Homo sapiens: one gene and its partner. The protein of the gene in region 2 interacts with the protein of the main gene of each other region in a biochemical or structural test. Each region holds a gene or a part of one and is shown on either strand. Other genes may lie near its edges.

What was found. The genes of interacting proteins can lie anywhere in the genome.
Region 1: the proteins of CASK (region 2) and RPH3A form a complex in vitro, tested with the Homo sapiens proteins (one study listed by BioGRID).

What each region holds. Positions count from the first base shown.
Region 1 is NC_000012.12:112,892,080-112,896,903, reverse strand, and holds part of RPH3A (rabphilin-3A), read right to left. Parts: intron 4,626-4,824; exon of another isoform or gene 4,519-4,625; intron 2,327-4,518; coding exon 2,245-2,326; intron 1,128-2,244; coding exon 1,031-1,127; intron 255-1,030; coding exon 124-254; 3' UTR 1-123. UniProt on the Homo sapiens protein: Plays an essential role in docking and fusion steps of regulated exocytosis.
Region 2 is NC_000023.11:41,517,168-41,522,174, reverse strand, and holds part of CASK (peripheral plasma membrane protein CASK), read left to right. Parts: exon of another isoform or gene 1-22; intron 23-1,578; coding exon 1,579-1,755; 3' UTR 1,756-5,007. UniProt on the Homo sapiens protein: Multidomain scaffolding Mg(2+)-independent protein kinase that catalyzes the phosphotransfer from ATP to proteins such as NRXN1, and plays a role in synaptic transmembrane protein anchoring and ion channel trafficking.

The DNA of each region.
Region 1 (4,824 bases), on a different chromosome or scaffold from region 2:
GCTCAGGGAGATCAGCAGGGTATGGGGGGAGGTAGGCATAGAGAAGAGAGATCAGGGTGCGGTGGGCAGCTAGAGCAGGCTGGGGGGGACCCGGGACATGGAGATGGGGACCTGGGCACTAGCCTAATCACTTGACACGTGGTTCTCATTCTGTAGCTGGTGCCAGCGCTCTATCTTCTTGTCTTTATTTTTCAGACACTCGTACCAGTGTTTTAAGCGCTCTCCCTTGGCAGAGATCCCCAGCTGGCAGCCTCCTGGAGGATAAATGGGAAGATAGGAGCAGGTGGTCAGAATAGAGGTCGTTCTAGACCCAAATGTGTAGTTGGGGAAAAAACTGCACCAAGCAGTGACCCCCAGCAACCTGGGATCCATACTCTATAGAGAGTTGTTATAACGTTGCTGCTGTTGTTGTTATTATTATTACGGTCCTTCTCTGCCTCAAGAACCTGCAATGGCTCCCTACTGTTCCACTGAGTCATAATTTCACTGTCTATTTTTAAAGGCTTTCTACAAATCACCATTCTACTCACTGAAACTTATCTCCCACTACTTCTGGGAACTCATTGTCTATTTCCAAAAAGGTTCATCATCCTGCTCAATCCTGTCTTTACCCCTTAGCTCAGGCTCTGTCCCTTGCCTGGAGTCCCCACCCCCCTGCTTCATCTTTAATTGATTTTCTTCCTCATGATTCAAACAGGAACTAAAAAATTAAAAATTTTATCCTGGACATGCAAATAAATTAAGAATTCTTTTGCACCCTGCTTTCTGCAGAGAACGCAAATCTCTCCTGTGATTTAATTACCCCACTGGAGGTGATTTGTTCAACAAATAATCAAGTTTTGTAAGGCTTTTCATGTAAAGACATCCCCAAATTGGACCAAGGTCAAGATCATGGGTCTCAATTTAGCATTTGAACAATGAGGTTGCCAAAAGAATAGCAATGACCTCAACTCTCTGTAGCCCTGGATAAGGCTCTCCTGTTCTGGGGAGGACAGAAGAGGGCGTTTTCTCTGGAGTTAGGAACACTCACCGATGTAATCATTGGACTTGCCGATGTCATAGTCCCAGACTGAAATGTCCAGTGACTTCTTTGCCAGGTCACTGTGTTTGATGTCATAGAAAAACTCCTGAATACAACAGAGGAAGACATGTGGGTAAGAGCCCTCTGAACCCACAGCATTGGGAGGTAAGAGGCCGAGTCCTAGGGGTTATGGGCCAAGGAGAGGTCCTTGAGCTGGCATTCTGGGAGCAAGGAGGTCTTCCCGTGCCGATCCTCTGCCCCAGGTCCCGTGATCCCCTTCCAACAAACACTCTGTGTAACAAAGCACTGTCATCCTCTTTTCAGTGAATTCTCTGCTTGAAATTGGGAAGGCTGGTGAGGTTTTTCTAATAGAGCTCAAGTTTCCTTGTAGGTAAATGGCCATGAACATAGTCCTTCCCCTCTGGTAGTTTATGAAGGGGCATCCCCTTTTTTATTGCTTAGGAATAAAAGTAGTTGAAGTGGCCGGGCCCGGTGGCTCACACCTGTAATTCCAGCACTTTGGGAGGCTGAGATGGTGGCTCATTTGAGCTCAGGAGTTCGAGACCAGCCTGACCAACATGGTGAAACCCCATCTCTACTAAAAATACAAAAATTAGCCAGGCATGGTGGTGGGCACCTGTAATTGCAGCTATTCGGGAAGCTGAGGCAGGAGAATTGCTTGAACCAGGGAGGTGGAGGTTGCAGTGAGCCAAGATCACGCCACTGCACTCCAGCCTAGGCCACAGAGTGAGACTCTGTCTCAAAAATAAATAAATAAATAAATACAGTTGAAGTGGACTGAGTACATATGTTCCCAGACAATCTGATTTTTAAAAAATAGCTTCTCTGCCTAATTACAAAATTCATTTTATGTTCATTGCTAAAACAAAGAAGAACCCCCACCCCCAATTCCCGGTAATCCAACTACCCAAGAATAACCATGTCAACATTCCCCCACATGTGTTCACAGTGATGTATAAATTTTTTGTTAACTAAGTAATGCTGAACATACAGTATTGTCACTTCCTTTTTCATTTACAACTTTGGGCAAAAACCAACTTAGCATGTTCTCAAATATTTTTCAAATATTTTTCTACATCATCATTTCAAATGGCTGCATTTAATGGCTATGTGGCCACATATTTAATGGCTATGTGGCTATTTGTGCCTCTCTAACACACAGCAAATATCCCAGAGCATGAAAAAGAATAGGGCAGCCTTACCTCATTGAATTCGGGATTCAAGGTTTTCTTTTTAATTTGAGTCTTGTGTTTGGCCTTCTTTCCCATGTCCGGTTTCAGCCAGCTGGGAGGCGACACAACATGCTATTATGGATGACGTTTAATGAATAAGAACAGCCTCTTGACCCCAAAGGCCCCTTCTTTATCAGGGTGAATTGATGAATAAATCAGAAAGGGATCAACATTGATAATGACCAATATGCATTAGAGCATCTGCTTGGTACCAGGCACTTGACTGAGCAACTTAGGCATATTTAATCCCCACATGACCCTAGGCAGTAGAACCACAACCACTCAGTTTACAGAAACAGAAACTGAGATCCAGAGAGGCAGAAGTGTGCCCTAGCTCACACAGCTGGGATTGAATCCAGATGTTGCATCTAGAGTCTGTGTTCTTAGCATGCTCACTTTCTCCCCATAAGTCAAATTGATGGCCATGGCTGGTGGTGCCTGGCATTTTACCATCTATCCCACCTTAGGCTGCCCCCAATCCCTAGAGAGAGGCTGGGTGTATGCACAGAAAGGGGAAGATGCAAATCTGATTATTGTCACTCCACTTCTCAAAACTGTGTACTGGGTTCCTTTTAAACTCAGGGGAGAGTTCAAAATCCTTCATGTGGCCTTAAGACCGTGTGTGTTGGGTTTCTGCTCCATCCCAACCTAACCTTATGCCATCCTCCTCACCCCACTCCTTACTTCTCCTTTCCACCCAAGGGCCTTTGAGCAAACTGTTTCTTCTGCCTACAGGGCTCTTTTCCAGTGAGGCCCAGTGTCTGGCACATAGTAGGTACTCAATCAATATTTTCTGGGTGAGGCTGCGTATGGTGGCTCGTGCCTGTAATCTCTGCACTTTAGGAGGCCAAAGCGGGAGGATCACTTGAGCCCAGGAGTTCCAGACCGGCCTGGGCAACATAGCGAGAGCCTGTCTCTATAAAAAATAACAAAAATTATCTGGGCACAGTGATGTATGCCTTCAGTCCCAGGTACTCAGGAAGCTGAGGTGGAAGGATCTCTTGAGCCCCAGAGTTCGAGGCTGCAGTGAGCTATGATCACACCACTGCACTACAGCCTGGGCAATAGAGCGAGACCCTGTCTCTTAAAAAAGAGAGAGAGAACAAAACACAAACCAAACAAAACAAAATATTTCCTGGGTGAGTAAACACAATGGGCTAAACACTCCTAAGGGCTGGGACATTTGGATTCTGATTCAGGTTGTCACCAGCGGAGCAACTTTAAACATGAGCGTAACTTTACCGTGCCTCTGTTTCTTGACCTGTAAAGAGGGCGAACATTTCATTCTCATCTACAGAAGTGGTTTTGAGGATAATTTTTAAGAAGAGACAAAAATGAGGAATTAGAAGTTACCAAAGAGCTAAGCAAAAATAATGGGAAGTTCTGGCTTTTAAAAAATCTTTATTTGATCAGAAACTGCTTAGTGGTCTCCCATTTTTTCTCCCATAACTGCACCCAGCAGGTCAGCTGCTTCAGTAGTGACCACGGCAATTCTACTTCTTCTGGAAGGATTGGGTAGGTGGGGGAGGGGGTGGTAGAGAGAATTATTTAAGAAAACCAATCTGCACATGGCTGACCTCTAATGGAGTGCTGGACAGCACCCCTTGAGCTCATTTCCTCTCTTGGGTCATACGAGGAAATAAAATCAAATTACTCTTAGAAACCAAACTTGTCCCTGACCTGTGTGTTCTTTGTTAACTAAATCTTCATTCAAAGGAAATGTGAAAGACAGCCCACATGGATCTGTTCTTTGGCCATGGACTAAAGGGAAGTATTGCTTTCTGTTATCAGAGGCAGTGGAGGTGGGGGGAGTGTCTCCCAACTGGAGGGGATATTAGTAAATACTCTCTGCCATGAGTAAGGACAGTGATGGTGGTTATTTATAACCATAATGGCAGGTATTTATTAGCATTTACTGTGTACCAGACCCCTTGAAAATGTACCTCTCAGCCTGCATTCTCCAGTTGCAGGGGGTAAAACTGATGAACAAGCTACTGGGCTCTGTATTCATGATGTTCTTGCTGAAGCCACGCTTCCCACAAGTGTTCTTAGCCAATAACTGACGCTAGCAGGGACACTAGGCAGCCCCATTTCTGGGAAATGCAGGACTCCTCTGATGGGTGACTGTGCTCAAGGATTCTCCATCACCTTGGATGAAATAGTGCAGCTTCCTTGGAGCTGCACTGTAGCCTAAGATTGTTTCTACCCAAACTTCCTTCCTTCTCTGCTCCACAGGGGTCATACCTGTAGCAAGGTCTGTGGTCTCTATGGGTCCCCTCTGGATTCCTCCTTATCTCCTCTACAGGCACACCTGTATCTTCTCTTGGTGTTTCCTTCTTGGAGGACCTGAACTAATATACAGTATTACAGTATTACTCTGTCCATTTTGCAGATGAGCACACTGAGGCCTAGAGATGTTAAGCTATGAGCCCCAGGTCACATAGCTAGAGCATACTGGAGACTCCATGCTCCATGGAGATCCACATCCACAGAAACATACATGTTGCTGCCCCAAGGCCAGCAGAATTCTACTGAGGTGCTAAACATTTC
Region 2 (5,007 bases):
CCAGCAGCCTCCCAGGAAAGGTCTCTTGCCAATAACAGAGGGGCTTTAGAGAAGAGGAGAGGAGGGGAGGGGCCCTAAGCCAGTACTGGGTACTACGGCTCCTAGGTCCTTGAAGGTACCGCATCTTTTATTTTCTCTGGAGATCTGTCTCTGTCACCCAGGGCCCCAATTTCCTGGAAGAATTGCTCAGTCTCTTGATTTTAGATTTAATACTTGTAAAACCCTATAATGACTGGCACTAGTCAGACAAGTGCTTGTTCTTTTGACAGCATTTATTAAGCACTTACTATGTGTAAGGCACTATGCCTAATGCTGGGGCACAGCAATTACAGGGCACACAAGACAAGTTTATGCCCTAGCTGGAGACATAGCCACTAATCAAATAAAGAGGTATTTCGTTATCTCTATGTATATTTAAGACTCAGCCCAAGAGCTCACCCACCTAGTGTTTGGCAGGTAGGGGGTGGTTAATTTGACTCACAAAGTTCCCTAGTGTCAAGGTTGAACTTGCCCTTTGGGAGTTCAGCATGACAAATATGACTTGCGAAGATATAGAGGCAGACTTCTTTCTGGTGGCTCTTAAGAGACCCCTGTCTTGAAAGAACTGCCACTCTGTAGCAGAAGCTATACTTGCATGACAAAGCTGGGACCCTAAACTCCCTCCTCCTGTTGGATCCCTCTTACAAGAGTTCTTAAAATCTGTGGCAAGCTGCAGCTTAGGGAACATCCTTTGTTGCAGCAAACCTCCCTAGAGTTCAGTACTCCCTAGAGTTCTCTTCCTTCTGTTTTTTTCATAAGAGATATGAGGACCTACGAACAGTGACATTTGTCTAGCCACTTCTAATGCAGACCAATTTGGGGGGATTCATCAGATGCCAGGTGCTGTTTATTGGGGAAACAGCCTTATTCCAGCCATTATTTGTAACACTCAAAGATCTTTTGCCTCTGGCATCAGCTGCTATTGAGTGAGGGCCATTATATGTAATTGAATTCCTAGAACGTGTGGCACCTTTAAGTAGAAGAGGAAAAAATACAACTTAATTTGTCATCCAAGGGCAGGGACTTGTTGGTGCAAACACAGCTGGGCCCTGAGGCCTGGCTCCAGTGAGTGTGGAGGACCAAGGGGACGGGGGCAAAGAGCTCCAGCCTTGCCACCGTAGCCCTCTCGCCAATTGGGAGAGTGGCTTGAGGCTAGGGCGGGGGGCTTCCTGCTGGCCTGTTTGGGCCACCATAGCCACTGTAACCCACACCTGGCATGGCCCTACCAAGCCTGACTCTGGGGACAGGCACAGCTAGGCCTGAGTGGGGGTGGCATGTTTCCTGAAGAGTATCTGTTTTCTCTGGTTCGTCTGCTTTGTCATGGACCCTCTGTTGCATGTTGAGCAATCACTGTCTCCTCTGTCATGGAGCGGACTTGGCCTCATGCTGGCATATGGCATATCAGGGTCTGGCCTTGACTGTTTCTGACACTGGGATGAACAAAAATGTGAAAAGAGAACGAATCCAACTGATTTCTCTCTTCTGTTTGCTTTTCCCTCCTCTCATGCCCACCCCTACCTCCATCTCATCACCATTTAGGATGAATCTCTTCAGCGTCTGCAGAAGGAGTCTGACATCTTACAGAGAACATATGCACACTACTTCGATCTCACAATTATCAACAATGAAATTGATGAGACAATCAGACATCTGGAGGAAGCTGTTGAGCTCGTGTGCACAGCCCCACAGTGGGTCCCTGTCTCCTGGGTCTATTAGGCCTCTCCCCAGATATCTGAGCATAACTGGGAGCACCTCATTTGTGGAAAAGCCTCTTTGTTATCGGCCTTGTGTCAGCAGGTCATGGTCCCTAGAGACTACCTAGTTGTAGTGTGACCTACATTTATAATTATTGTCATGTCCGAATAGATAGGAGGAGAAAAACAATTACACACTAATTTAAAGAGACAGTATCTTTTTTAATCAGTTCTCCTAAACTTTAATAAAATGTATCTTTAAATGTATGTATTATTCAATCCTTTGGAATGTTATATTTTTGGAAATCATAGCTTTTTATTTCCAAGGCCCCTAAAAACTGCACAAAATAGATGCTGCTTTCTATAATCTATTTTAATAATAATAAACAATGATTCTGTTACCTTGACTGGGGGTGGAACACTACATTCTTTTTAGAGTCTGATTTTATGGATTGGAATATTGGGATATCTTTCTTTCCTTTATTTATTTGAAATAATTAGTGTAGTGATTACAAAACAGTCATAAATTTTTAAAGGCCTTTTTTCTCTCTTTTTTTTTTTTTAGAATAGTATTTTTTTTTAAGTCCTTTATGTAACATCCAGATAATGTGATACTGTCTCTTTGAAGCACCCTGTAAACCTTTTAGAGATTTGAAGTTGGGTCTTGACTCTTAATGCATGTGGACAGTCGCGAGCGTTTATGCTGTCGGTGTGTCTGTGTTGGACAAAACAATCTGTAATCTACAGCAAAGTACATTCTACATTCCGTTCATGGGGCACACCCAGGGGAATAAGAATAAAATGCTATTATGACTAAGTTGTAAACCTATGCACATCCCTTGCATTTTGGGCAACTTTATAAAAAAAAAGAAACTGATTTTTATTAATAATAATCATGTAGTGAAATGTGTTTGTAATTTTGTCTCAATTTAATTTGTTGTAAGGTGGGGTGGGGGGAATTGCTGGTTTCACCATTTCAGATCTGTGTTGTCTAAGAGTATTAACGTTTTAATTAAGCAAAGAAATGATTTTTAATCTGTATGTAATTGTTTTAAAGCACCCATTTTAAGAGAAAATACTGTGCAATGAAGAAACCAGTTTAGGCATTTGCTATAAACTGAAATATTCCAAAAGAATCATCTATAACAGCCCTGTAAATTCCTTTAAAATGATAACTAACAGGACAGTTTGACCAATTTTTTTTAAATATACTTCCTTTTATGTGTTCAATAATTAAATGCCTTTGGGTCCTTCATTTCATTATAGATTTGTTCAGGCTTCCAAGCTGATAATCTTTACAATTGTATAATTTGTTAGATGCTCATTGAACCTTTGAAGGCCCAGGAGTGAGTATCAGTTGGCAGGGTGACAAAGTAGCCTGCCAGAGCACAGCTGGACCACGTCTGACTCGCACAGAGCCATGCGCCCAAGGGCCACGGGTGTACTGGAGGCCACCTGTGGTCTCTCCTTCCTCTTGCTGTATCCCTTGGCACAGGGGAATCATCTGTCCTTGTTGCTTTAGAGACATTAACCATCTCATAACTCTTCCATGAAGTCACATTCTTCCAATACAGGAGATTCGGGCTGGGGTTCTCAGACTCTTTGCCAGAGGTCAGTAGAATGTTTTTCATTAGCATGTGAGGGTGTGAAGTGCTTATATTAACCTGTGATCCTTGAAAACATACCATCATTTTTTGCTTCTTGTAGGTTAGATGGCCTTGTCACTTTGTGCCTTGGCAGGATGTGCAGGGTGTGTTCTGAGCTGAACAGCTCCTCTTAAAGGACCAAACAGAGAAGGCATTAGTATACTTCTTTTACATTGTCAACACCATACCCGCCTCCGCCCCCCACCGCCTATTATTAAATGGTGGCGATTTTTTTTTTTCTGATGTTGTTCTTTGCCAGTGACCAGATGAGTCTGCAACTTACTAACAAGGTATTGAGTGAACTACTTCTGTATGGGCCCCACAGTGGGGTGACCAAGCCACCAAACCAGAGATAAGCTCAACAGTGGTCTCACACTAGATAGAGAGAGAAACCTTCAAAGAGTTGGGTAGGGCTGTGTTAGAACTGATTCGAATCTGATAGATGCCAAGGCCAGACAGTCGTTCCTGGTATGGTACTGACCACAATTTCGGGCTCTTAGTGTGAAGGTGCGCACTCTACCTCTTTTCTGGTGAAGCACAAAGACAACTACAACTAACACATGGGAAACAGAAACTTCCCTCCCTCTAGTGGAAACCCCCACGCCCCCACTTGCCCTTTGAGCCCACATCTCCAGAGATGCTGATGATGCCTGTCTTAAGCCATCTGCCATATTTATAAAGGTGGATTAAGCAGAGGAGGAGAAAAGCAATGCCAACTTAAATGTCTGTGGCCCCACAATTCACAAGCACTGTAGCACTCATCCTCAGTGGCTTTATACGTCCTCTGAGAAGCACACAGGCAGGCATCATTCTTGCCATCATTCCGATGGTGAAATCCCTGCATGCAGAACTCATTGACTTCTCAAAGATGTTACCTGTTCCATTCCACTAATACATGTCTTCTCTAAAGCAGTGTCTTTATGACCTAGCTGCATATACTTACATTTCTGAATTCAGAGTAATTTCAGTACATTGCTGCTGCTGCTGCTGCTGCTGCTGCTGCTGCTGCTGCTGCTGCTGCTGCTACTGCTACATTACAATTGTCCACTAAGCAATCAGAGAAAATTGCTAAAAGCTTCTTTACTGCTTCCATTCCATCAGCAGAACCTTTTTTTTTCTTTCTTTCTTTTAAAGACCAGAATGAATGTTTAGAGTACTAAATCTTATTAGTGGTCAATTGAAGTATTGGAGAGCCACATTTTGAAGGTTCTCTCCCCCACCCAACTCCATTCCCCACAGCAAGAAAGGGAGTGTTTTTATATGTTGAATTCTTTGTTAAAAAGATGAAATGTCCTGATTTTCCAGTCACAAGACAGTAATTACTTTGCACATACAGCATATCCCATTTTAATGCTAAAAAGGGAAATGTCACTCAATTTAATTCATCTGGAAGTTTCCCAGTGTCAAGATAACATTGTAGCCTTTTTAAATGCAATTAAATGTATCTCTTGTCAGGTGAGATGATTTAAAATCTTTGCTCAGAGAGGAAAACAAATGGTTGACCTACTTCTTGCTATTTGCATTCAGAAGGCATCGTCCCAGCCCATCCTATTGGTGGCAGAATATCTAAAGATGTCGCAAAGTCCCCCACTGCAGTAGAAATGCAGGAGGTGTTCCTGTTCCCCGTC